5 separate regions of the Homo sapiens genome follow, and all the other regions are linked to region 4. Evidence: fine-mapped expression QTL. A gene starts in region 4. Each other region holds a variant in brackets. All regions are shown on one strand. Distances are between the middles of the regions.

Evidence for each region. PIP is the estimated chance that this variant, and not a neighbour inherited with it, causes the effect. A credible set is the group of variants that fine-mapping cannot tell apart.
Region 1: its variant is the best candidate, but not a certain one, in a credible set for the expression of ST7L in spinal cord (GTEx, PIP 0.74).
Region 2: its variant is the best candidate, but not a certain one, in a credible set for the expression of ST7L in monocytes after triphosphate RNA (Kim-Hellmuth 2017, PIP 0.54).
Region 3: its variant is the best candidate, but not a certain one, in a credible set for the expression of ST7L in subcutaneous fat (FUSION, PIP 0.89).
Region 5: its variant is the best candidate, but not a certain one, in a credible set for the expression of ST7L in prefrontal cortex (GTEx, PIP 0.87).

The regions. Positions count from the first base shown.
Region 1 is chr1:112,530,441-112,537,131 of GRCh38, reverse strand. The region is part of intron 14 of ST7L (suppression of tumorigenicity 7 like); the gene reads left to right. Among named protein-coding and RNA genes, the nearest start is that of WNT2B, 25 kb to the right of the region's middle. The variant A/G (reference allele first, on the strand shown) is at 2,998.
Region 2 is chr1:112,564,326-112,569,325 of GRCh38, reverse strand. All of the region lies in intron 11 of ST7L (suppression of tumorigenicity 7 like), which reads left to right. Among named protein-coding and RNA genes, the nearest start is that of ST7L, 52 kb to the left of the region's middle. The variant G/A (reference allele first, on the strand shown) is at 3,029.
Region 3 is chr1:112,571,462-112,577,658 of GRCh38, reverse strand. ST7L (suppression of tumorigenicity 7 like) reads left to right here. Exons shown (of 15, transcript NM_017744.5): 11 at 571-673. Among named protein-coding and RNA genes, the nearest start is that of ST7L, 45 kb to the left of the region's middle. The variant G/A (reference allele first, on the strand shown) is at 2,442.
Region 4 is chr1:112,617,202-112,622,201 of GRCh38, reverse strand. ST7L (suppression of tumorigenicity 7 like) reads left to right here and starts at 3,061. Exons shown (of 15, transcript NM_017744.5): 1 at 3,061-3,293. The coding sequence starts at 3,089. CAPZA1 (capping actin protein of muscle Z-line subunit alpha 1) reads right to left here and starts at 2,370. Exons shown (of 10, transcript NM_006135.3): 1 at 2,319-2,370. The coding sequence starts at 2,357. RefSeq lists enhancers at 2,088-2,537, 1,690-2,889, 2,998-3,097.
Region 5 is chr1:112,513,978-112,518,977 of GRCh38, reverse strand. WNT2B (Wnt family member 2B) reads right to left here. Exons shown (of 5, transcript NM_024494.3): 2 at 3,884-4,104; 3 at 2,561-2,838; 4 at 1,593-1,857. It also overlaps a transcript of ST7L not described here. Among named protein-coding and RNA genes, the nearest start is that of WNT2B, 7.5 kb to the right of the region's middle. The variant A/T (reference allele first, on the strand shown) is at 2,380.

The DNA.
Region 1 (6,691 bases), 86 kb after region 4:
CCCAGCTACTTGGGAGGCTGAGGCAGGAGAACTGCTTGAACCTAGAAGGCGGAAGTTGCAGTGAGCCGAGATCGCGTCGCTGCACTCCAGCCTGGGTAACAGAGTGAGACTCCATCTCAAAAAAAAAAAAAGTCCCTAGTTGGGTTTTAACTAAACAGGGTAGTCTTTGCAATTTTGGCAGAAAAGGGTGTTACAGGTAAAGGTAGGAATCAGAGATTCCCAAATAAATTGTCTGTTTTAGTACAGCAAAACTTTGTTGAAGTTTGTTTTACTGAACGCATATTGTAGCTGTGCTGCGGTGGGAATGGGCTTTGTTTCCACATATTTCTACTAATCTTTATGTGGGAAAATGTGGTTGGACATGCCAATGATGAATTTCTGAGCAACTCATAATTGGCTGGCTCCACTGTAACTAGGGCCTTACAATCTGCTTGATTAATTCTTTAAGGACTACATTAGCCAAGTTGCATGATTTCCAAAGATATAGAAGGTCAGATGTTACACTAACAAAGAACCTCTCTACAGAATGTCTCACTGGGGTTTCTTTAGTCCCTTCTCAAAAATAATTAAAATTTTTCTTCCCAAATTACATTTTTAAAAGAATAAGCAGATATAAATGCCAAGTGTCTTTTACTGAAAAGTGAACAAAACTTTTGGGAAGATTTGTCCACTATTCTTACCATTTTTTTCAGGGAAAAGATTGATCTTCAGAACCGGGGGAGTTAATAAACAATTATAACTATATATTAATGTATACCAATTGAAAAATATATGTTTTTTTAAAGGTTCTGAGTTTTCCATTATTATAACCTGTGACATGATAGTTGTATACTTCTTTATTAAATTCCTAGGGCCACATTCAGAAATTAAATTAATGATTAAAATAAATTTCTTCACTTTGTTTGAAAATGGATTACTTTCAAAGCTATGAGACTTTTTTAGTTCGTAAGAACTGATACAGTTTTAAAAACATTTTGAAATGTAACTAAACTTACATTTCTGTAAAATATTCTATAACCATGCTATTTCCACAGTTATAAATCTGAGTTGTTTCCCAGAGATAATACAGATAATAAAATAAACCTATTGTGTGACAGGTCAAAATTTTTAAATGTTTACATATTTGTTCCATTGTTGGTGCATCTAAAGTCTTTATTTGGGCAGTCTCGCATATTCAATTTTAATTTTCTTTACTAACTGGGATTTTGGATCAAGAGAAAAGACGTTCTCTACCTCCTAGAAGGGTATTTCTCATGTTTCATCCTTGTTTTTCTGCTTCAAAAAGAACCAAACTAAGAAATTTGTGAAATTGCTGGTATTATTATTCATCCAGATTTTCTAAGCACTGAGCTCTTCTAAGGGGGAAAGAAAATAATAAAAGTTAGGAAAATGTACTTTTTTTTTTTTTTGAGACAGAGTCTCACTCTCTCACCCAGGCAGGAGTGCAGTGGTGCCATCTCGGCTCACTGCAACCTGGGCTCAAGTGATCCTCCCACCTCAGCCTCCCGAGTAGCTGGGACTACAAGTATGTGCCTCCATGCTAGGCTAATTTTTAAAAATTTGTTATAGAGATGGGGTCTCACTTTGTTGCCCAGGCTGGTCTCCAACTCCTGAGCTCAAGCAATCTGTCCACACCGGCCTACCAAAATGCTGGGATTACAGGCTTGAGCCACCGTGCCCAGCCATGTCAATGTACTTCTTCTTCTTCATCTTCTTCTTCTTCTTCTTCTTCTTCTTATTATTATTAGTATTATTATTTGGAGACAGAGTCTGCCTCTGTTGCCCAGGATGGAGTGCAGTGGCACCATCTGGGCTCACTGCAATCTCCACCTTCCTGGCTCAAACCATATGCCCACCTCAGCCTCCCAAGTAGTTGGGACTACAATATGTACCACCATGCCTGGCTAATTTTTGTATTTTTGGTAGAGACAGGGTTTCACCATGTTGGCCAGGCTAGTCTTGAACTCCTGAACTCAAGTGATCCACCCACCTGGGCCTCCCAAAGTGCTGGGATTACAGGTGTGAGCCACTGCGCCCAGCCAACAATATACCGTTTAACGCATGTGTATATCCCTTCCCCAGGGTTTAATTCAGTTTTAAAGTTGGTAGAAAGTATCCTTTTTTCCCATTAACATGTGCCTGTCAAGTATGAGGTTCACAGAAGCTCTCCCAGAATTTGTTTCACATATGTTTAATCATCTTTTTTCCCCCTCAAAGTGAAAATCTCATTGCTAAAATTTAGGACATCATGTCACTAACTGCTACTGATATATTTATTGCTTAATCATTAGCGCTTGGGACACATGGAGTGCTTAGCAGTTTTTAGAAGAGCTGTGCTTAGATAGTGATATAAATCACTCATTCGAAACCCATTCTCCTAGTGATATTATAATTCACAATAGGAAACACTGATCTTTGTTTTAGAAAACATCTCTATCTTGCAGACCCAGCATAGTCCTCTAAATTGGGAGAATCATGGGGTACAGAAGAAAATTATAATATTGAGGAATAGTTTTTAGCTTTTATCTTGGTGGAGTTTGGCTCCCTTCCCCTACCAATCAAATGAACTAAATTAGTGAGACTACATAATATATTACAATTCTAAACCAAGAGTAACTCAGACTTCAGTTAGTGCTTCATTTTTTAAAAGAGATTATACTTATATCCTCATTTATTCTTACTGGAGCCATTGGAACATAGACTTACCGAAACCATGGGAACATTATAGATGTAAAGTTTGAGTCATCAAAGTTAAGTGATGTGCCTAAAATTACACAATTGATAAGATAGCTTATTACTTTTAGTCATGATACATACTTTTGATTTCAATAATATATCACTTCATAACTTACACTGAAATGAGTACAAAAGAATAAATTTCATACCAGAGATAGTAATGCTGAGGGAATAGAGAATGACAGAGTGGTGATATCCAGTGGCTTGCTAGAGAAACTTTCCTAAAAGAGTTAAATTTGGAGAAGAGTTTTAAATGAAGAT[A/G]CTGATGTGGATTGTCAGAAAAATAAAAAGGGTGCTTAGGTTGGAGAAATGTTTACTGCAAAGACAAGTATCAGTGGGCAAATAAGCTGCCTGGGAGTACTCTTCACAGTTTAAGTCTGTTTGATGAACTCCAATGCTTTAAAATAAAGAATGAAAGCTGTGCATGGTGGCTGACACCTGTAATCCCAGCACTTTGGGAGGCTGAGGTGGGAGGATTGCTTGAGCCCAGGAGTTCGAGACCAGCCTGGGCAATTACAGTAGTAATTATAGTAGTAAGAGCTCATAAAAATGAAAAGTAAAAATAAAAACAAATTAGCCAGGCATGGTGGCGCACCCCTGTAGTTTCAGCTACTTAGAAGGCGGAGACAGGAGAATCATCTGAGCCCAGGAGTTGGAGGTTATGGTAAGCCATGATAGCAACACCACATTCCAGCCTGGGACACAGAGCAAGACCTTGTCTTAAATAAATAGGTACATACATACATATATACATAAATTAATTACTTAAAAATAAAGAACTCAGCCGGGCGTGGTGGTTCACGCCTGTAATCCCAGCACTTTGGGAGGCCAAGGCAGGTGGATCATGAGTCAAGAGATCAAGACGATCCTGGCCAACATGGTGAAACCGCGTCTCTACTAAAAATACAAAAATTGGCTGGGCGTGGTGGCGCGCCTGTAGTCCCAGCTACTTGGGAGGCTGAGGCAGGAGAATCACTTGAACCCAGGAGGCCAAGATTGCCGTGAGCCAGGATCACGCCACTGCACTCCAGCCTGGCAACAGAGCGAGACTCCATCTCAAAAAAAAAAATAAAATAAAATAACGCACATATGCTTTTCTTTCAAACTGATTCATTCCAATGTCATTCCTCTTGCTAGTTAGCTACTTAAGAAAGAATGCCGCTTGGTCATTTACATTGCATACTCAAACGTTACTGCATAGACTTCAGCCTCTCTAAGTGCTTAAAATGTACAATAATACTAAAGAAACAGTAAGCCCTGGTTTGTAATGATTCAGAGGGAATTTGACTCTCAAGTTACTTTTTTAAAGTTTTAATATGAAGTATAAATGTATACCTTATGTTTCAATATCAGTCTTCTTTCAAAATCAAAGGGCAAGTTTGTGAAGGATTGTAGGGGAAAGATAAACTGAACATAATAAACTTTTGGTCTAAAATATCATAACCTATAACTTTTTTCCCTAAAGTAGGAATTTTAGGTAGCAGAGGTACTTCTAGTAATTGTATCAATAGGTAGGAAACTTGGGTGTGTTCCTTAATGCTCATGAGGCCTCAATAAAATATTGGGTTTTAATTGGGTGTTCTATCTGAATTTGAGGAAATCATAAAATTATCTTTGTTCTGTAATAACATTAAGATTGTCTTAAGTCTGTCTTGACAGTAGCCAGCTTCAAGGAGAGAAATTATTTGGGATTCAATAATACTTAACAAAATTAAGAGTAGGATATTCAGAGAATGCAGATCACATAATCACCTTCTGACCTCACTCTGTAATTTCAAGCATTCTAGAAATAAAACTGTTCAAAGTGTAGAAAAGGGCTATGTTTCCTTTAAACATCCTTGCAGATGACCAATGTGACAGAGAAAGATGCAGCTTAGGGGACAGTTGGAGAAGGGAGCACATTCCCACACTCTTTGTTAGGAACATGCCAGCTCTCGTCTTCATTTATTCAATATGCTGCAGTCCCAGTTTCTTTCTGAAGCCAGAGCTCATGCTTTTACTCCCAGGTAGCAGCAGCTTTACAATTAAATTTTAATCCGACAGTGTTGTTAGACTCCTATCAAGAGTACAGCCACAGCTGTTCTTGGCAGGCAAATACATTGCTGGTTTTCCTTCAGTCACAGTGAGATAGAAAAATGTTCTCTGTCTAGGGTGTGGACGAAGGCACTTTACTAATCTTATGCATAATTCATCCTTGGTTGCTGGGGCACTCAAAGTTGAAACTTTGCCCTCTGATAAAATTCAGCTGGATGTTTTTTATTTATTAGACTCTGATCCCTTTAGGGGTTTAGCCCTTATTGCGAGCCCAGGGATTCTAATTTGGCTAAGCCCTAGCTGTGAAGACTTTTCTTACTAATTTGCCCTTGGTGAATTTTAGCTCTTGTAATACCACCTTTAAAAAACAAAAAACAAAAACTGCAGTAGAACATGCAGTTCAGAGAGTCCTGGATAACCTGAAAAGAGTCTTCTTTGAATGTTGGCTTATTGAATGGAAGGACTCCAATAGGGCCTGTCTTGATTTGTTTTCAAAGTTTAGATTTGTAAAGAGCCTCAGCAAATTAAAACATGGTTTTAATTGTCCTATAACATGCTAAAATATGGTAATGATTGTCCTATAACATATAACAGGTCTTTGCATTTCAAATTCATTGGGTACCTGTGAAGTATAAAATATAATCCCTGTTCATAAGTAACTCATAGTCTAGTGGTAGGGGGTTTGAGATGGGCATGAAGATGTATTAGTATAAGGTGGAAGCTATTGCCACAATAGATGAGTTCATCCTTGAATATTCATTTATTTGACTGGAAGGGAATGGTGAGTTATTTTCACACGGCTCCCGTAAGATATAGTGACCCAAAAGGTCAGTCTAGACTAATAGATTATGCTTCCTTTCAGAAGAATTTATTCGGTTAGGTCAAGCAAGAACATATAGAAAGAGATATCTTTATTCTTTTCCAAATATGTGATGTGGAGTACTTTCATCTTTATACTCAGCAGCTGGAATTCATCTTTTTGTAAGCAGTGTTATTTATTATAATGTTTATATGAATATAATTTATCAAAAAATGGAGAGCTCCACAATTCAAAATTTAAGAAATGTCTCACCTCAGATTCACAGAGTAATTGCCTTAGACAAAAGCTCTACACTCATACATTTTATATACCTCTTTTATATCCTCTCATTCCTAATAATGACAGATTAATAAGAACTAATAGCCATCCTGGTTTTCAGTATGAAACAATGTGATTTCATGTGAAGAAGAATAGAATAGTAAGAGTTAGGACCAAAATTACTTAGTTCTTTGGGCATGTGAGAGAATAGGAAAGAGCTACCCAGAATTTTCCAGAGCTCACTTGATAATGTCAAGAGCTGCAGCTGGCAGTCACTGATTCTGAAAATAGGCACACATCATGTTAATCAAAAAACTAAATAAAAGGATATTGGGATAAGGCACTAAAATAAAGTTCCTTTTGCCCTTTCTTTATAGCTGGGTTTTGCTGATCAATTCTGCATTTTTTGGCAATTCTACCTCTTTACAGGGAGAACCACCAGTATTATTTTCTCTTTAAGTAACTGAAAAAATATTTCCTATCTTTATTGAGCTGTCTCATTAAAGTAACAGACTAGCTGGATCACTGGGGATATGACTTTGGGATATATGTTTTAAAATAGGCACAGAGGCTGGGTGCGGTGGCTCACTCCTGTAATCCCAACACTTTGGGAGGCCGAGGTGGGTAGATCATCTGAGGTCAGGAGTTTGAGACCAGCCTGGCCAACATGGTGAAACCTTGTCTCTACTAAAAACACAAAAATTAGCCTGATGTGGTGGCAGGCGCCTGTAATCCCAGCTACTCAGGAGGCTGAGGCAGGAGAATTGCTTGAACCTGGGAGGCGAAGGTTGCAGTGAGCCAAGATCACGCCACTGCACTCCAGCCCTAGTGACAGAGCGAGAA
Region 2 (5,000 bases), 53 kb after region 4:
GGACATTTGGGTTGGTTTCACTTTTTGACTAGCATGAATAATGCTGTTATGAACATTCATGTACAAGTTTTTGTGTGAACATAAATTTTTCAATTCTCTCAAGTATACACCTAGAAGTGGAACTGGTAGATCGCAAGTAATTCTGTTTAATTTTTTGAGAGACTGCCAAACTGTTTTGCAGAGTAACTGCATTATTTTACATTCCCTCAGCAATGTGTGAGTTCCAGTTCCTCTACATTTGTCTCAACACTTATTATTATCTGTCTTTTTTATTATAGTTATCCCAATGGGTATGAAGTGATATTTCATTGTAGTTTTGTTTTGTATTTCCCTAATGACTAATGATATTAAGCATCACTTTAATATGTTTATTGGCTGTTTGTGTTTTTTCTTTGGACAGATATATGTTCAAGTTGCATATTTTTAAATTTTTGTTTTATATATATATATATATATATATATATTTATATTTATATTTATAAAAAACAGGGTCTCCCTATGTTGCCCGGGCTCGTCTCAAACTCCTGGGCTCCAGGGATCCTCCTGCCTCAGCTTCCCGAAGTGCTAGGATTACAGGCTTGAGTCACTGTGCCTGGCCTAAATTTGTTTTTTTGTTGTTGTTTTTTTGTTTTTTAAATTAAAGGTATTCTATTTATCTTTTTATTATAAGGTATTCTTTAACATTATTATTGGCCAGGCGCAGTGGCTCATGCCTGTAATCCCAGCACTTTGGGAGGCTGAGGCGGGCGAATCACAAGGTCAGGAGATCGAGACCATCCTGGCTAACACGGTGAAACTCCGTCTCTACTAAAAATACAAAAATTAGCCAGGCATGGTGGTGGGCGCCTGTAGTCCCAGCTACTTGGGAGGCTGAGGCAGGAGAATGGCATGAACCTGGGAGGCAGAGCTTGCAGTGAGCCGAGATCATGCCACTGCACTCCAGCCTGGGCGACAAAGCAAGACTCCGTCTCACAAAAAAAAAAAAAAAAAAAAAATATTATTACAGTAGACCATTGACACTCTTGATTAATGTGATCCAGAACCATTGTGAATATCCACATTTGAAAATGCCACTATTACATGTATTTTCACCTATGAAATGTAAACATGAGAATGGGTCACAAACCTTGCTGAGATACAGATGCTAAAGAGCCTGCTAGATGTATTCATTAGGTACATCATTCACATGCGTGCACAAGCCTCAAAGCATGTTATTCAAATTTGTGCCTTAGCAAAATGATGCCTGCTATACATCATGGGTATTTGGAGCTCCCACAAAGAGTAGAAATTGTAAACGTTAGATCCCTGAATGTCAGTGATCTACTATAAATGTAACTATTGTTGGTATGACACTTCACACATCAGTTAGAATAATATCGCCCAACTTTAAGATCTAACAATGGCTTGCTGTAATATTTTATTGATGATTTTTAAAGTAAGCATACTATAGCTGAATTCTTCTAAATTTTATTTTATATTCAAATATAAAATAATTACTATAAAAAACAAAATCACAGAATGGATCCACATATATACTGTCATATATGTGACAAAACATTCACATATATACTGTCAATTGATTTTTGACAAAAGCACCAATGCAATTCAATGGGGAAATGGAACTTCAACAAATGGTACTAGAACATCTGGATATCTAAATGTGGTGGGAGGGAATCATGAATTTTTTTCACATAGCATACACAAAAATTAATTTGAAATGTGTCATTGATCTAAATATAAAAACCAAAACTATACAACATCTAGACCAAAACATCTAAGACTATCTTTGAAAGCTGGGGGTAAAGAAAGATTTCCTAGGACATAGAAGGCAATTATAAGAGAAGACAATTACAAATTGAACTTTATCAAAATTTTAAAAGTCTGCTCATGTTAGTGTTAAGACAAAAAGGCAAGCCATGGACAGGAAAAAATATTTGTAATATGTTTATCTGACAAAGGACTCGTATCCAAAATATATACATATAAAAAAACACAATATTAAAAAATGGGCAAAAGCCTTGAACAGATACTACAAAAGAAAATATTGGAATGTCCAATAACACATAAAGAGATGTTCATATGAAGGTAAAATGAAGCAGGCAAAAAAAGAAAAGATGTTCAACATCATTAGTTATGAGAGAAATGCAATATAAAGTCATGAAGTAATACTTTCACATCTATCAGAATGACTAAAATTTAAAAGACTGATAAAATGTCAATAAGAATGTGAAAGTCAGAACTTTCATACACTGCTGCTAAGATTACAAAATGGTACAACCACTTTGGAAAACTGGCAATTTCTGATACAATTAAATATATCCTTCAACCTGTGATCCAGCAATCCTACTCCAAGGTATATACCCAAGAGAAATGAAATCATATGTCCACAAGAAGAGTTGAACATGAATATCATAGCAGTTCTATTTATAATAGCCCCAAACTAGAAACAATCCCAATGTCCTTCAATAGGTAAATAGATAAGTAAGTTACAATACAGTGGTATTCAGCAATAAAAAGACCTACTGATACAAGCAAAACATGAATGAAACCAAAAATATGACATATAAACAAGTACTTACTGAATGATTCCATTTATGTGAAGTTCAAGAAAAGGCAAAAAGTGATCTGTGGTGGTAGAAATGAAAACACTGTTTGCCTCAGGTGGTCAGGTGAAACATTCATTAACTAGAAAGGAGAACTTCCTGGAGTGAAAGAAGATACGTTTTGATGGCCAGGCGCAGTGGCTCATGCCTGTAATCCCAACACTTTGGGAGGCTGAGGAGGGCGGATCACGAGGTCAGGAGTTCGAGACCAGCCTGGCCAGCATGGTGAAACCCCATCTCGACTAAAAATACAAAAAATTAGCTGGACATGGTGGCACACACCTGTAGTCCCAGCTACTTGGGAGGCTGAGGCAGGAGAATCACTTGAACCCAGGAGGTGGAGGTTGCAGTGAGCCTATATCACGCCACTGCACTCCAGCCTAGATGACAGAGCAAGACTCTGTCTCAAAAAAAAAAAAAAAAAA[G/A]AAGAAGAAGAAAAAGAAATAAAAGAAAATATGTCTTGATTTGGGCATTACTTGTCTACATTTGTCAAAACTCATCAAGCCGCATATTTAGGATCTATGTATTTAAAATTATACCTCAATAAAGAAAAAAGAATTTGACTTAGCATGGAAAGCATTGTAAAAGTATCATGCCTTCTGATGAAATTAGATAATGTATGTGAAGTGCTTAACACAGTGTCTGAGTGTCAGGCTATTATTGATTATCATGGTGGTTGTCACTTTATTTCTGTACCTTTTTTTTTTTTCTTGAGACAGAGTTTTGTTCTGTCATCCAGGCTGGAGTGCAGTGGCATGATCATGACTCACTGCAGCCTCAGCCTGGTGGGCTCAAGTGATCCTCCCACCTAAGCCTTCCTAGTAGCTGGGACTACAGGTGCATGCCACGGAGCTAATTTTTGTATTTTTTGTAGAGATGGGGTTTTGCCATTTGTCCAGGCTGGTCTTGAACTCCTGGGCTCAAGCAGTCCGCCCACCTTGGCCTCCCAAAGTGCTGGGATTACAGGCATGAGCCACTGTGCCTGGCCCATCTTCTTTGAGTTGTTCAGTGTTTGTTTCTTTGTGGATGTTATTTTAGTGTTTGTAGCCTTAGAATGTATAAGGTTTGGGGGATTCCTTTGTTGAGATGAGGTAGTGGTGAAGATTTTGAAAACAGTTAGGAATTAACTAATTTGAATTAGCTAATAACGTAATAATAGTTAGGTAATAACTAATTTGAATTAGTTACAATACCCTGAAAACAGTTTGTGTCTTACAGAAGAAGCCCTTAGGGCAAGAGTAAAGTAGAGCAGTAAGAAACAAAACAATAACAAAAGTGTGTTTAGTAAATCCTTATAACTGGAGTACATATTTAGAAATTCGCTATCTGTAGCATTTAAAAGTTACTATTTTGGCTGGGCGTGGTGGCTCACGCCTGCAATCCCAGCACTTTGGGAGGCCGAGATGGGTTGGATCATCTGAGGTTAGGCGTTTGAGACCAGCCTGGCCGACATGGTGAAACCCTGTCTCTACTGAAAATACAAAAAAAAAAAAAAAAAAAAAAAAAAAAAATTAGCCGAACATGGTGGTGGGCGCCTGTAATCCCAGCTACTTGGGAGGCTGAGGCAGGAGAATCGCTTGAACCTGGACGGCAGAGGTTGCAGTGAGCCGAGATCGCGCCATTGCACTCCAGCCTGGGCAACAAGAGCAAAGCTCCATCTCAAATAATAATAATAATAAATAAAAATTACTATTTCTTATTTTACAATAAAACTGCTTTTAGTGTTATGCTGCCAAGAAAGTAGACTATACCTGGAGACTTTTAAGTGCAGAGGAAGTTTTAAAAATAAATTGATACATAGAAAGTAAAATCTGTTCTGGTTGATCAGAAATGGAAGCCCGTAGAATGTTACAAGTCTTATCCACCCTAGAAGATAGTAGCTCTTTTTTTTTTTTTTTTTTTTTTGAGATGCAGTTTTGCTCTTGTTGCCCAGGCTGGAGTGCAATGGCACAGTCTCGGCTCACTGCAACCTCCGCCTCCTGGGTTCAAGCAATTCTCCTGCCTCAGCCTCCCAAGTAGCTGGGATTATAGGCACCCGCCACCACACCTGGGCAATTTTTGTATTTTTAGTAGAGGCAGGGTTTCACCATGTTGGCCAGGCTGGTCTTGAACTCCTGACCTCAGGTGAGCCACCTGCCTTGGCCTCCCAAAGTGCTGAGCCACTGCTCCCAGCTGATAGTAGCTCTTTAGCAGCAGACTTGCATTTCACTGGCTAAACTACTTATATCATAGCACCGGCATATATAAAAGATAAAAGGGAAACAGGTGCTCAGTTGACATTCCGAGTGGCATAGCAGGGGTAAAGAGAGCAAAGGAGAAGTGTTGAAGTCTGTGACCCAAACTTAGAGCACAATGAAACCTTTGCCTTTCCCTTATGTTGTACTGTGGCCTAAGTAG
Region 3 (6,197 bases), 45 kb after region 4:
TACCTTCAGTGGACTTCTCCTGAAGGCCTTCTTTACCTAAGTTTGAAGACTTTCATTCCTTATGCTGCTTTGTTTTTTCTATGTTGAACCCACAAGACTATACTTTTTTTTTTTTTTTTTTTTTTTTTGAGACAGAGTTTCACTCTTGTTGCCCAGGCTGGAGTGCAATGGCACAATCTTGGCTCACTGCAACCTCTGCCTCCCGGGTACAAGTGATTCTCCTGCCTCAGCCTCCCATGTGTGCCTGGGACTACAGGCACACACCACCACACCCAGCTAATTTTGTATTTGTAGTAGAGACGGGGTTTCTCCATGTTGGTCAGGCTGGTCTCTAACTCCTGAGCTCAGGTGATCCACCTATCTCAGCCTCCCAAAGTGCTGGGATTACAAGCATGAGCCACTGCGCCCGGCCAGCTTTAATTTTTTTTTTTTTTTTGTTAGTCCTCTGGCTTTGTTTTTGGCCATCTCCAGAAACTTCTTTTGATTCAAGGGGCTGTATTATTATCTAAATTCATACTTTTTTTCTTTTTTTTAGCATATTTATTTTTTCATTTTGTGGTTTTCTTGTAGATTCTCTCCAGAAACAGCCTCCAGAAGAGGATTAAGCACAGCAGAAATTAATGCCGTGGAAGCAATTCATAGAGCTGTGGAATTTAATCCTCATGTTCCAAAAGTGAGAAATTTTATGATAAAAATACTACCTTTATTTAAGTTTATCAAATTGATGACAGTTCGTAGACCAGAGTCTGGGTCACCATAATTTGGTGCAGAATTGTTTTAATCTGCTATATTTTGATGCTTATTATTCACCTTACAGGGGACGTTGAAACATTTAGGCATTTAGAAAGGTAGATAGGAGCAATAGTTAGCTATATGCTTTGTAATTACTATCAAAATATAATTTGAACTGTGTTCACTTAGCTGTTCTTTTAGTATAGTTGTAGAAAATAAATAATGGGTTGGTCTTAATAAAAGATTATTCATATTTCTTATCACTAAATCAAATTTCCTGTTACTGTGAAAGCTTTTTCTAGACAGATGCCTGGGTTTTGAACTAGGGTTGGGTAGACAAAAACTGAAGACAAACAGATTAAAATAATCAATGATAGGAGGCAGATGTGGAAATTCCCAGAAAAACTGGCTGATGCTTATTTCGTCCCCAATGAGTCTATATACTTGCTTTGTCTTTATATTGTACACCTTGCAGTTATACAAATTATTGCTTAATCTTTGTGTGTTACAACACAAAATTAAATTTTGGGGTTTGGGCTGGGCACAGTGGCTCATGCCTATAATCTCAACACTTTGGGAGGCCGAGGTGGGAGGATTACTTGAGCCCAGGAGTTTGGGACTAGCGGCTGGGCAATGTGGTGAGACCTCATCTCTGCAAAAAATATAAAAATTATCTGAGTGTGGTGATGCTTCCTGTTGTCTCAGCTACTTGGGAGACCAAGGGGAGAAGATTGCTTGAGTCCAGGAGGTCGAGACTGTAGTGAGCTGCAATCACGCCACTGCACTGAAGCCTTGGGTGACAGAGTGAAACCCCATCTCAAAAAAAAAATTGGGGTTCTACAAACAATGCCCCATGTTAGGAAGTATAGACAATTCAAGAATAGATGCCCTTACTACGGAAAGTAATTATAGCTATTGATTCCAGTGAAAGGGTGTTAATAGAGCTTGGAAGCTAAAGAGCTACAGTAAAGAGATTAATTGCTAAAAGATAATTTCCAAGAAAAGGATGTTGTAAGCCTGTTAGAGTAAGTAAAGATATGGTTAAGAAAAGTACTTAAATCCAAGAAAGAGAGTCAACAAATATTTATACCATTCTCTCATTAAGTGACACTGGTTCCATAAATTTAAAGACAGCGGTTCACCCATATCTATGGTTTTGCATTCCATGGTTTCAGTTACCACAGTCAGCCTCTGTCTGAAAATATTACATGGAAAATTCCAGAAATAAACAATTCATAAGTTTTAAGTTGCATGCCGTTCTGAGTAGCTTGATGAAATCTTACACCATCCCCCTCCATCCAGGCTAGTACATGACTCATCCCCTTGTCCAGCATATCCAACACTGTCTATGCTACCCGCCCATTAGTCACTTAGTAGCCAACTCGGTTATCAGATCGACTGTCATGGTATCATAGTGCTTGTGTTCAGGTAACCTTTATCTTACTTAATAGTGACCCCAAATGCAAGATTGACATATTGTTATAACTGTTCTATTTTATCATTAGTTATTGTTATTAGTCTCTTACTGTGCCTAAATTATAAATTAAATTCTATCATGGGCATATATTTAGAGGAAAAAACATGGTGTACGTAGGGTTTGGTACTATTTGTGGTTTCAGATATCCACTGGGAGTCTTAAAACATATGTACTGAGGATAAGGAGTGAGTACTGTAAACTTTTATTTTTCTTTAGACAGAGTTTTGCTTTC[G/A]CCCAAGCTGGAGTACAGTGGCAGAATCTTGGCTCACTGCAACCTCCGCCTCCAGAGTTCAAGCGATTCTTCTGCCTCAGCCTCCCAAGTAGCTGGGACTACAGGTGCGCGCCACCACGCCCAGCTAATTATTTTGTATTTTTAGTAGAGACGAGGTTTCACCATGTTAGCTAGTATGGTCTCGATCTCCTGACCTTGTGATCCGCCCGCCTCAGCCTCCCAAAGTGCTGGGATTACAGGCATAAGCCACCGCGCCCAGCCTTGTAAACTTTTTATTATGAGTTCTACTACACATGCAGCAAAGTGTATGAGACAAAAATGTGCATCTTAATGATTTATTACAAAGTAAATGCTTGAAAACTATCGAGATCAAGAAACAGAACATTATCAACCCACAGACGCCTACCTGACTGCCCTTTCCCATTACAACCTCCCTTCCTACCTAAAGGTAACCACTATTCTTATTCATTTGTATTCTTATTTATTAATTATGTTTATTTCCTCCCTTTATGTTTTTTATCTGTACTTTTTATTTATGGATTTTTTTTCTTTTTTTTTTGAGACGGAGTCTTGTTCTGTCGCCCAGGCTGGAGTGCAGTGGCGTGATCTAGGCTCACTGCAAGCTCTGCCTCCCGGGTTTATGCCATTCTCCTGCCTCAGCCTCCCAAGTAGCTGAGACTGCAGGCGCCCGCCACCACGCCTGGCTAATTTTTTGTATTTTTAGTAGAGACGAGGTTTCACAGTGTTAGCCAGGATGGTCTCGATCTCCTGACCTTGTGATCCGCCCGCCTTGGCCTCCCAAAGTGCTGGGATTACAGGCGTGAGCCAGTGCGTCTGGCTTTTTTTTTCTTTTTAAGACAGACTCTTCAGCTATTCGAGAGGCTGAGGCAGGAGAATTGCTTGAACTCAGGAGGCAGAGGTTGCAGTGAGCCGAGATAGTGCCATTACACCGCAGCCTGGGTGACAGAGTGAGACTCTGTCTCATTAAAAAAAAAAAAAAAGTCCGGGCGCAGTGGCTCACACCTGTAATCCCAGCACTTTGGGAGGCCGAGGTGGGTGGATCGCCTAAGCTCAAGAGTTCAAGACCACCCAGGGCAGCATGGTGAAACCCTGTCTCTACTAAAAATACAAAAAAATTAACCGGGTGTGGTGGGGTGCGCCTGTAGTCCCAGCTACTTGGGGGGCTGAGGCAGGAGAATCACTTGAGTCCTAGAGATGAAGGTTGCAGTGAGCCGAGATCGCACCACTGCACTCCAGCTTGGGCTACAGAGTGAGACTCCGTCTCAAAAAAAAAAAAAAAAAAAAAACAGGAAAAGAAAAAACGAAGACAGGGTCTTGCTCTCATGCCCAGGCTGGAGTGCAGTGGTGTGATCTTGGCCCACTGCAACCTCCACCTCCTGGGCTCAAGCGATCTGCCCGCCTCAGCCTCCCAAAGTGCTGGGATTACAGGTGTGAGCAAACATATGCCTGGCCCTGGATTTATAAATGAGTTAAAGAGTGGTCCCTGTTTATTTATTCTGTGGAATAATTTGTATAAAATTAGAATTATTTCTGCCCTAAATGATTAGTAAATTTGTTATTAAAGCCATCTGATTCTTCAGTTTTCTTTGTGAGAAGACTTTGAGTTACAAATTTCATTTCTTTAATAGTTTAATTACAAATTCAATTTCTAAGCATATCATAACTATTGAAATTTTTTGTTTCTTCTTATGTTTTTGTTAAGTTGTATTTTTCTAAAAATTTATTTCATCAAAATTCTCAAATGTATTGACATAAGGTATTCATAAAATCCTTTTATTGCCATATTAGTATTTGCAGCATTAGTTGTAATACTCAATTTTTAATTCTTTTTTTTTTTTTTTTTTTTTTGAGAGGGAGTTTTGCTCTTGCTGCCCGGGCTGGAGTGCAATGGCGCGATCTCGGCTCACTGCAACCTCCACCTCCCGGGTTCAGGTGATTCTCCTGCCTCAGCCTCCTGAGTAGCTGGGATTACAGGCATGCGCCACCATACCCAGCTAATTTTGTATTTTCGGTTGAGATGGGGTTTCTCCATATTGGTCAGGTTGGTGTCAAACTCCCAACCTCAGATGATCAGCCCGCCTCGGCCTCCCAAAGTGCTGAGATTACAGGCATAAGCTACTGCACCTGGCCCCACTTTTTAATTCCTAACCTTGGCTAGTTTTATTTTTCTTGATCAGGTTCTTTAGGGATTTGCCAATCTTACTTGTTTTTGCCAAGAACTTGGCTCTGGCTTTGTTGGGTTTTTTCTACTATTTATTTTCTGGTTCATTCATTTCTGCTCTTTATTGCCTTCCTTCAACTTAATTTGAGTTTATTTTATTTTAATTTCCTGTGTCTTCTCACATAGGTACTTAACTCTGTAATTTTCGTCTTTCTTCTGATATACCCAGTTAAATCTAGAAACTTCTCTCAACACAATTTTAACTGCATACTATAGCAACATTTTTTACATAATTTAGTTCAAAATATTTTCTTTAAAAAAAAATAGAGACAGGATCTCCACATGTTGCCCAGACTGGTCTTGAACTCCTGGCCTCAAGCATCCTCCCTCCTCAGCCTCCCAAAGTGCTGGGATTACAGGTGTGAGCCACCTCCCTTGGCCCAAAATATTTTCTAATCTGTTTATAATTTCATCTTTGATTTAGAGTTATATTTATTCCATGAAGGTAGATATAATAAACAAAAGATTTTCTTCAAATTTTTTTTCTTCTTTTTCTTTTTTCTGCTTTGCTCATGTTGAGAAACAACAGATTTCCAAAGTAGATGAAACAGCCTTCTATTGGAAGAAGATGCCAACTAAGACTTTCATAGCTAGAGAGGAGAAGTTGTTCCTGGCTTCAAAGCTTCAGAGGACAAGCTGACTCTCTTCTTAGGGGCTAATGCAGCTGGTGACTTTAAGTTGAAGCCAGTGCTTACTTACCATTCCAAAAATCCTAGGGTCTTTAAGAATTATGCTAAATCTTCTCTGCCTGTGCTCTATAAATGGAACAACAAAGCCTGGATGACAGCACATCTGTTTATAGCATGGTTTAAACACTATTTTAGGCCCACTGTTGAGACCTACTGCTGAGACATGATTCTTTTTAAAATATTACTGCTCATTGACAATGTACCTAGTCACCCAAGAGCTCTGTTGGAGATGTACAAGGAGATTAATGTTTCCACACCTGCTAACACAACAGCCATTCTGCAGCCCACAGATCAAGAAGTCATTTTGACTTGGAAGTCCTATTATTTCAGAAATACATTTAGTAAGGCCGTAGGTCCCATATATAGTGATTCCTCTGGTGGATCTGGGCAAAGTAAATTTTATATGTCATGGGAAACCAAAAAATTTGTGTGACTTGCTTTATTTTGATATTTGCTTTATTGCAGTGGTCTGGAAGTGAACTTGCAATATGTCCAAGATATGTCTATAGTTACAAACATGAATTTTGGGATATATAAAGTATGCTTCATTAAAACTATATAGGCTGGGCGTGGTGGCTCACACCTGTAATCCCAGCCCTTTGGGAGGCCGAAGCGGGTGGATCACCTGAGGTCAGGAGTTCGAGACCAGCCTGACCAACATGGAGAAACCCCATCTCTACTAAAAATACAAAATTAGCCAGGCCTGGTGGCACATGCCTGTAACCCCAGCTACTCAGGAGGCTGAGGCAGGAGAATCACTTGAACCTGGGAGGTGGAGGTTGCAGTGAGCCAAGATCATGCCATTGTACTCTGCCTGGGCAACAA
Region 4 (5,000 bases):
TATCACCAAATTTTCTAAAGGTTCACTGCCTTTAGAAAATGTAACAAAGATAAAAAACAATATTAAAATATACTTGGCAACAAAAAAAGTATGCTAGAAGAGGAAACTGGTCACAGATCTGCTATTAAAAAAAACAATACTGGCTGGGCTCGGTGGCTCACGCCTGTAATCCCAGCACTTTGGGAGGCCAAGGCGGGCAGATCATGAGGTCAGGAGTTCGAGACCAGCCTGGCCAACATAGTGAAACCCCGTCTCTACTAAAAATACAAAAAATTAGCCAGGCTTGGTGGCGGGCGCCTGTAATCCTAGCTACTCGAGAGGCTGAGGCAGGAGAATCGCTTGAACCAGAGAGGCAGAGGTTGCAGCGAGCGGAGATCGCACCACTGCACACCACCCCGGGTGACAGAGCGAGACTCCATCTCAAAAAAAAAAAAAAAAAACCATAACCCAAGACATTAATGTTATTAATTAAAACACTGCCAGTATCTAAAGGCATCTTAATTGGCATTTTAAAATATATATTTTCCCAAGTTTAATTAAAGGCATTCTAACCTGGTATCAAAGACAAAAATCCAACAACACTGGTCAATGTGTATCAGGTAGGCACAATAAACTTAAAAGTTTATTATTTAAATTATTTGTGAAATTTTGGCCGGCCGCGGTGGCTTACGCCTGTAATCCCAGCACTTTAAGTGGCGAAGACGGATGGATCGTTTGAGCCCAAGAGTTTGAGACCGGCCTGGGCAACAAGACGAAACCCACTCTCTACAAGAAATACAAAAATTAGCTGGACTTGGTGGCGGGTGCCTGTAATCCCAGCTACTCGGGAAGCTGAGGCAGGAGAATAATTTGAACCAGGGAGGCGGAAGTTGCAGTGAGCCGAGCGAGACTCCGTCTCAAAAAAAAAAAAAAATTGTTTAGTTGTATTGTAACAGGATTTTTGCTTAATTTTATTTGAATAGTAACTATTTGCCTTAGAACAATTTATTATAGATCGATTTCCAGCATAGGCTTATACATAAATGTTTTTGTCCTAAATCTTAAACATGTATGAAGATCAGTTTCCAAATAAGAGAAAATCTAACGCTGTTGTCAATGGCTTGTTAAACATTTCAAAATGGCATGCCATATCTACATATATCAAGTTATTCCGTACAGAGGACTTATGGATCATAACAGTCCCCTTCCCATCCCAACTTCTTATTGAAAAAAACACCCAGGTAGATTTACAGAGCACTCAAGGGGACACATTTTCTAATAGCCACAGTGGGAGACAAATGTCATAATTCTTGTCCAATAAGTTGCCTTGTGAGGTCATTCTAAGTTCTACGTGCCCTAAAACCATGTACTTACTGAAAAGCCTGACAAACTGTTATGAAACTGTGCAACTGTCAGAAGAAAAGTTATTCCACCTTAGAATGTGCTCTTGTATTTAAGACCCTTTTCAAGAAATGAGCATACAAAATGCACACTGACAAATTCAACTGATCAAAGACTCCACAGTGGAGCATCAAAGAAGGCAGGATGCTTTGTTCAGTCTTGAACGTGTTAACATAAGGTTTATTATGTGTTACAGAAAACCTTTCTGGAGGTTAAGAAAATCCATCAGCTATTCTAGATTTGTTAACAAGAAACAAAATTTTCAAAAATTATCGTTAAAAGGGATGTGTCTATAGGGAAAGACTGGTGTTCAAATTCTGAAGCAAATGCCCTGAGGCTCACAGATTTATTATAGCGAATCAGACAGGCGACAGTACAGGAGAAAAGTAGTGCATGTGTAGGGAGATGGACAACATTTGGGACCTCTCCTTGTCGAAGAGTCGTGACAGCAAAATCACTTCCTGAGGAAGGAGGAGCAAAAGGGAAGTTAAGAGGCCATCCTGACCAGGAAGTGACTCGCCCTAAACTAACCCCAATTATATCTACAAATGGGGGGATGGGGTGAGCCCCAACTGCTAAAGGCGGTAAAATAACTGCTTTTTGATATGTCGCAACATAACCACCACCCTCTCGCAAAATTACAGAAAAAAGTCCACAGTCACGATCCAATAAAGGAAACGTCTGTTCCCTTGCAGGGAGGCCCCTGGGCTGTGCCTCAGGCCTGAGAGAAAAGGAGAGTCGAGGAACGAGGAACTGGGGCCACCGTGAGGCAGAGGAAAGCCCCCTAAGAGGGAAGCGTCCCGACTGCGGAGAGCGTATGTCAGCATGGACCAAGAAGCTTCTTTTTCCTGGGGACACTGCTAGGCTCCCAACGCAGCCGGGCCGGGCCCCAGTTCCCTGTCGGGGGAGGAGGTAAGAGAGAGAGGCGGACCCCTTACCTTCTCCTCATCCGACACACGATCATCGAAGTCGGCCATCTTGGGCTGTTCTGGCCCAGCCCGGCTACGGGCGCGAGGCAGGCCGGGAAGAAAGCCGAGTGATGGAATCACCGCGGCGGCCGTCGGAAGGACCCGCCCGGAAACGCCGACCAAGAGGGCCCCATGTCAGTTATGCGCGGGAGTGACGTCTCCTAACGCCAGCGCCCGCGCCCGCGCCCCAGGAAGTAGGGTTTGCCTTAGGTGATTTGAAGTCTAATATCTTTCCCAATGAGTTACACTCATTTCCCATCCATCTAATGGGCGCTGGCAGCGTGTTTCGATTATTCTTGGCTTCTGGCCTCCATCCGACCAAATAGCTGTTGCTACTCCTACAAGTTTTTCTGGTGCCCGTTATCTCCACGACAGCCGAATCCAAAGCTTTAAGAGCTGCTCGGCAGCTGGAACGATCGGTGGCTTTTCCAACCCCGGGGGGGGGGCGGTGTGAAAGGTGACCCTCATTTCGTTTGGAAGCGGTAACACTTCGGGGTCACATCTCAGTCCAGTTCCTCCAGAATAGGCGCTGCTGTCCGCCCCTTCCCTGCCCCACGAAAGAACAGGTAGCCCCAATCTTGAGACACGCTCCTCCACCTTCGAAATCTTCTCGGTCCCGGTTCCCCAGGACTCAGCCTTCACAGAGGCCAACTTCAGGTCCGCCACTATCCCAGGATTCCCGACTCCCGGTTTCCTGTCCTTCTCCCCTCCCAGCTCCTGGCGCCTGCGATAGCGGCAAGATGGCGGACCGTGGCGGCGTGGGTGAAGCCGCAGCTGTTGGAGCGTCTCCTGCATCTGTCCCTGGCCTAAACCCGACGCTAGGCTGGAGGGAGCGACTGCGGGCCGGGCTGGCGGGGACTGGGGCCTCGTTGTGGTTCGTGGCGGGGCTGGGGCTGCTTTACGCCCTGAGGATCCCTTTGAGGCTGTGTGAGAATTTGGCAGCGGGTGAGAGGACCAGACCTCCTGGGGCAGGGCGGGGGGCCAGGAGAGATGTCGGGGGCAAGAGCCAAAGGGCAAGAGATTCTCGGTAGTCCTAGAGGGCCTCTGAGGAGTCGATGATGAGCGATCAAGTGAGTTCTTTTTCTTTTGGGCTGCAACCTTGCAGTTGATTGACAAGCCTGCTGCCGTTACCGGCTCCTCCGTAGAACTCTTAAGGTCCGCCCTCTCTCTTATGTCCTCGTTTTTCCATGGAAAAGCCACCTGACAAGCTATAAGCTTCAGGTATTAGGACAGAAGAGTGTCTCAGATTAGGATACGTAATTTATATTGGCTCCCCCACCTCTGGTAGGATCCCTTAAAAGTCACTACTTTGAGTCTCCCGCTGCCCAGCTGAAAGAACTCATATCCAGGCAACAAAGATGAGCACATCTGTAATTTAAAGATTTCAGAGAAAGAAAATGGCATGATTTTAATTGAGGATTCTCTTGTTTTAAAATAGTTCTGTTAAGAAATCGTTTTCGTGATAGTTTTGTCTGTTCTTTTAGGCTTATCTTGAGTAATAAAATAGTACAGGAAGTGAGAGCGCCACAAACAACAGTGGGTTTGCTAGTTCTTTCGACGTCTGTAGAACACTTGCTACGTATTCTGTGCTGACAATACGAACACATGTAAGAAGTGATGATCCTGATGGATTCTCATATACTGTACTATTCTTTAGCTGTAGACAGGATGAAGTGTTTAGGGCCCAGGTCCCCTTACCATGTGATTATATTTCACTCAAGATCTGAGCAGCAACCTCAGAACAAGATATAAGTATTTCCATTACATGATTCAGTATGGTGGTTGATTTTTCTGAAGCAAAAGGCAGCAAATGTCCCCTTTCCTGTTCAGAGATGACATGAAAGACTGTGAGTTAATGTTCGGAAATATTTTGGTTTTTTTGGAGGATAGGTATCAAGTTCAAATATAACTAGCACTCTAAAATAAGCTAAACTGAAGAGCTAATTTGGCATCTCTGTAACAGGTGAATGAAGTGCTTAACGGTGGTTTCTATGCACAGTGTTACTGATTGACTTGTCATTTATTTTTCTACGTTAACCATATGCAACATTTAGATGAGAATAGTTGATTACTATAGATTTTTCTTTTTTACGTTTCGTGTGTGTGTGTGTGTGTGTGTGTGTGTGTGTGTGTGTGAGAGAGAGAAAGACAGACAGAGTCTCCCTTTGTCACCCAGGCTGAAGTGTAGTGGCAAGATCACTGCAGCCTTGAACTCTTCTGCTTAAGCGATCCTCTGGCCTCAGCCTCCCAAGTAGCTGGGACTGCAGGCGTGCACCACCACGACTGGCTGAGTTTTAAATTTTGCGTAGAGACTGGGTCTATTTTATTTGCCCAGGCTGGTCTTGAACTTCTGGCTACCAGTGATCCTCCTGCCTTGGCCTCCCAAAACTCTGAGATTATGGGAGTGAGCCATCCTACCTGGCCAGATTTTTATTTTCTTTCTAAAACCCACAGTACTTATGAGATAATTATTTGAAGTGAAAAATCTGCTCCAGGATTTCAGTAACTCAGGGAGATTTCTGTTTGTTGCTTTTCTCTTTGAGCCATTTTGCCTCTCTAGCTGATATACCAAATACATATGCTGTTTCCTTCCCTCTAATTTGAGACAGTGGTTTTGTATCCTACCAAAATAAATATGGAGTAGTTTTGAAC
Region 5 (5,000 bases), 100 kb after region 4:
AAAATTTAGCTCCTCAGTCACACTAGTTATATTCCAAGTACTCAGTAATCACATGTGGCTAGTTGCTACTGTATTGGACAACAGAGATAGGAAAACATTTCTATCATCACAGAAAGTTCAATTGGACTCTATTGCTTTGGAGGGAATTCCTGGCTCCATATTCTTTCTGGGATGACTTATATTCTTTGAATTCCAGGGCCCACTTTGGGTTTTAGGAGGCCTAATTTTATGCCTCTGAGAAAAACGAACACACATTTGACTTATCCTCCCTCCTAACTCCAAAGTTCCTTCCCTAAAGGTGTATTTTCAGTATGGTAGTATAGGTTTACACCTCAGATGTTATGGAATTATTTCTAGGTATCCAGAGAGTGACCCTCTGAATTAGACCAAGTGGGAGGAAAGTATACTTAGTGGCAGGAAATCACTAGGAAAATCAGAAGGGCTCCAAGTTTTTTTCTTCTAGCACCCTACAAAGTATACAGACTACTTTCTTCATTAATTGGGTAGAGCCCCACCCTTTTTCTGTGCCCAGTTTTACTCCAAGCCACTTGACTCTTCCAGGAATGACAGTGATGGGTGAAAACAAACAGTACCGAAGATAGCTGAGGTTTTTTGGCTCCACTTCACCCAAGTCCTGACGCTGAGCCTGTAGAAAAGAGCCTGGGAGCCCCACAGCAATAACCAGAGGAGAAGAGTTCTGCTGCATTGCATGTTCCTAGTTTAACCTATCTGAACCAGAAATGTGAGCCAGGATGGTAACTTTCATTCCCTTGGGGAAAAACCATATCAACTTCCAGCACCTCCAAGAATCCCACCACAAATACCTCGAACAGACTGAAAAACAACCATTTGCTGCTTTACCTGCCTTTGGTAGGGATCTCTTCTTCGTTTCTTTTTCAGCTGTTTCAGAATCTTCAATGGCAGCACACTGGATAAAGCCTTTCAAGGACATCTTTCTAGCTTTAATCTCCCTTAGAGAGAACCTTTACCCAGCAGATTGGTCTGTTCTCTGTCCCTGGGACAGATCATGTGCTTTCCCACCTACTACTCTCTGATAAGAAATTGCCCACTCGTCTCTCAAGCTATCCAGATACTCCCTACACTTCAAGGAGCAGCTTAAATTCTAGTTTCTTTTTTTTCCCTACATTTTCAAATAAACTTTATTGATTTCTCCATCTCTCTTTGCATTTGTCTACCCATTATGTCTCATTTCTTTAAGTAGATTGCGAAGAGCCAAAGGCTTAGGGCTGCATCTTATGTTTCTGTGCAGCCCACACATTGCTTAAAACTGAAAACAGGTAACTAAGTTAAACATACCCTGAATAATGCCTACTGTATCCCAGATGCTGGGATACAAAGGAGCGATGCATGACCTCAGGCCTCAAGGAGCTGAGTGACCTCCTCTCTACTTGGGCAGCACTGGGCCTGGTGGACTGCAACAATCTCATGACCAGGTGTTCATGTGGAGAGGAAACTGCCTCCTCCCACAGCACCCCCTTCCCTAACTCCTGAGACTGAACAGACCATGATTAACCAGGGGTGCCTGCACTAAGAACTGGGACTGCATGTCCCTGCCTGCCTTCCTTACTCACCTGCAGCCTTGTCCAAGACACAGTAATCTGGAGAGTTGTCAAAGTAGACAAGATCAGTCCGGGTGGCACGGCGATAGCCTTGGCGGGCTGCGGTGAAGTTGGCACCATCTTGGGTGGCCATCACCTGCACAGCCCCATCATAGCGTCGCCGCAGGTAATCACCTGTGCGGCGGAAATCTGAGAGTGCACGCCAGCAGGTGCGCAGAGTACAGGAACCACTCACGCCATGGCACTTACACTCCAGCTTCAGAAACCGCCGCACAGCCTGGGGGAGGGGGAAGGCAGTTAAGGGAGAAGTAGCTGGTCAGGACACATTTTAGTCATCCCTAGGTCCAAAAGGATGAGTGCTCTGAGATAGGCTGGACCTGGCCCTGGCTGGCCGATTGAGCTCTCGGTTCTCTCCCACATCAGATCCCACCCATTCTTCCTGATCAAGTTCAAGAAACTCTTTTTCCAGGAAATCTGCCTGAACCAACAGTGCTTTCCTTTTCATGACAGCCCACTGAACTGTAGAGCCACAGGATTCTGTTCACGATGACAGTGTGCTTGCACATCCTCTACTTTTCACGTTTTAGAGTGCCAGGTACCATGCCTTCTACTTTAGTGGTGTGCCATTTTCCAGCATAGTACTAGGCACATAGAAGATGTTCAAATACCAGGGAACTGACTAGAACAACCTCTTATCCTCTCAGTCTTTATGAAGGCAGTTCTTTTCCTTCTTAAAAAGTTACTTCTTTTCTCCACCTTTTCCTACTTTCCACCTATGTGAAGACTCTTCACGCACCTG[A/T]TTGACCCTAGGCATTCCTAAGCTCCCTTGCATTTAGTTCTCCTGTCCCAGGATGTTGGGGCTTTTGGAAGTGACCCAGAAGCCTTCAGCTCTTCCATCTTCACATTTATTTAGTCCATGGTCACACACACTGGTCACCCCCAGCAAATATGAGTGTACTTACACAGACATGAGTACTGACCGTGCGACCACAGCGGTTATTATGTAAGTTCATGAGGGCCCGGGCATCCTTAAGCCTCTTCTCCTTGGCATCCACGAAGGCCTTGGCAAAACGGACACCGTAGTGGATGTTGTCACTGCAGCCACCCCAGTCAAAGTCCCCACGCTGGTCATGGTGTCGGCCACGGGTGTAGGGGTCACAGCTGCACACACTCAGTTCACCCTGGCTACAGGCGCGAGTAATAGCGTGGACTACCCCTGCTGATGAGATGGCATATACAAAAGCTGCCTCTCGGCTACCTAGAGAGAGAATTGTAGAGGTGTGCTTCAGGAAAGAGGCCCATGTCTGTCCCCTTCTTCAGCCCATACAACCTCTGACTCTGAAACCTCTTCCCTAATTTTCTTTCCCAGAGTCACCCCTACACCCCCTTTATTCAAGGTGCCTTTCATTTCCAAGAGCATTCCCCAGAGTATCTGACCTCTTCCCCTCAGCCCTCACTACTCTCTATCCACTTCTTTGTATATCTGACCTTTTGAGCTGACCTATACTCTTGTTTCCTGCCAAATTCCCTGTGTCCATCCATTGAAAAGTCTCCTGGTGAATCATCCCCTCCCACTGAGTGCCAGCACTGGCTCAGCTAAGCCTGCCTTAGTCCACATTCCAGGCCTTTTCAGGCCCACTCTGCTGGACAGTTCCCCCACAATGGAGACCCCAGCCCAGGGGTCAGCCTGTTTAGAGATCCATGCTACCCTCCCTTGCCTGCTTGCTCTCCCTCCCTGCTCTTGGAGACTGATGAATTATCGCCCCTGTATGCCTGACACCTCCAGATTCCCATCTTGTTCCCTTTCTCCTAGTTTACTGTCTAGCTCTATTTAGCTTTTTTGCTGAGCTGAGGCCAAGCCACTGACTCTCCAAATATTTACATATCACCTTTCTGTTTATCTTTTGTTCCCATTACTGTAGTGTTGGGAGTGTTGGGGTGACGATAGTGATGGTGGTGTTAAGAACAGAGGGCCTATCATAGACCTCAGCCTTACAGTACATGGTAGCCTCCCAAGCTGGGGATTGGGGAGGACAAGGAAAATGAGGGAGAAAGATGGAGGTTCTAGGGAATGCTTTACCTTGGTCTTGTCCCAGAGCACTAAGATTTAGAGGAGCCCCTGTCTACAAATCTAAGATGCTAAGAGTCTGTTCCCAATTATATCCTGGGCTCTGCCCACAGTTCTTTCTCTGATGATGAAACAGTGTGTGGGAGAGGAGAGGGGAGATCTTGCCTACTCTTCCCACTCACCACCCCCAGCACAGAAAGGGAAGGAGCTGACACAGGATGGAAGAGGCTCTTACTTCTGAGCATGACACGGCCAAAGACGGTGTGGTCCCGGTCCAGGGTGGTACAGTTCCAGCGGTGGTGGCGGAATTGGTGCTGACACTCTCGGATCCATTCTCGGGCACCCTCGCCCACTGAACGCATGATGTCTGGGTAACGCTGGCACAGCTGCCGCTGCCGGCTCACCAAACCAGGGATATTGTCACAGATCACTCGTGCCCCCAGTGCCCCAATGTACCTGCAAGGCAGAGATGGCCCTGTCAGAACATCCCAGACCTTTTTCTGCATTGGGAGGGAATAAGGAAGGGGTACGTTTAGCATCCAGACCTTGAAGAGATTCTGTCCCCTCTCCCTAACCCACATTCCATAAAGCTGATGAGTAGAACCATTTCCCACAGTTCTGAAGAAGTATTAATAGTTATACAGTTGCAGAGAGAGTAATTGAGTGGCCTCCCACCATCACCAGTTCCCCAGCCAAAGGCCAAAGTGACATACACTCCCAGAACACAGGCTAGGCATGTGTCACATACACAGAAGCTGTGGGCATGTCACACAAACTCATTGTCTGTTTATTTAATAAACATTAAGAGCTTCATGGAAACATAAACTAACAAAATAAGGGTCTGAGACAACACTCTTATGCTCCCATTAAGAGGGATGTCCCGCATGGCTGGTCCACGAAGATATGGTTTGACAGCAGGGGGGTGGTGACAGGGAGGGGCTCGTGGGAAGAGACATAGTGAGCAATCTGAGTAACGTTTACAGCTCTAGTCAGACCCGTGTAGCTAAAAAAAATCCTCATTCCCAATCGTGAGGTCCGGGGAGGAAGACCCCACCCTCTACTCTCCTCCTCAAACCCTTTATTTCCAGGCCCCAGGGCCTTTCTTAACTAATGAACCTTTTAAAACCATCTTCCCCAACCTGGATGGACCTGCAAGGGCTGTCTGCAGTGGGAAGCCAAAGGCCAAGATAAGTAAGAGGATGACTCTCCCCACACTGCAGTCTCCAGTCTGTCCAATATGAACAATTAAAAGAAGGTCAATTGAGATGGGCTACTAAAGAATAGGTGGGTTGCCAGAGTCATTATTGTTTCTCAAGGCAATATTTTCTCTTCACTCAGTTTTAACCCTGGAT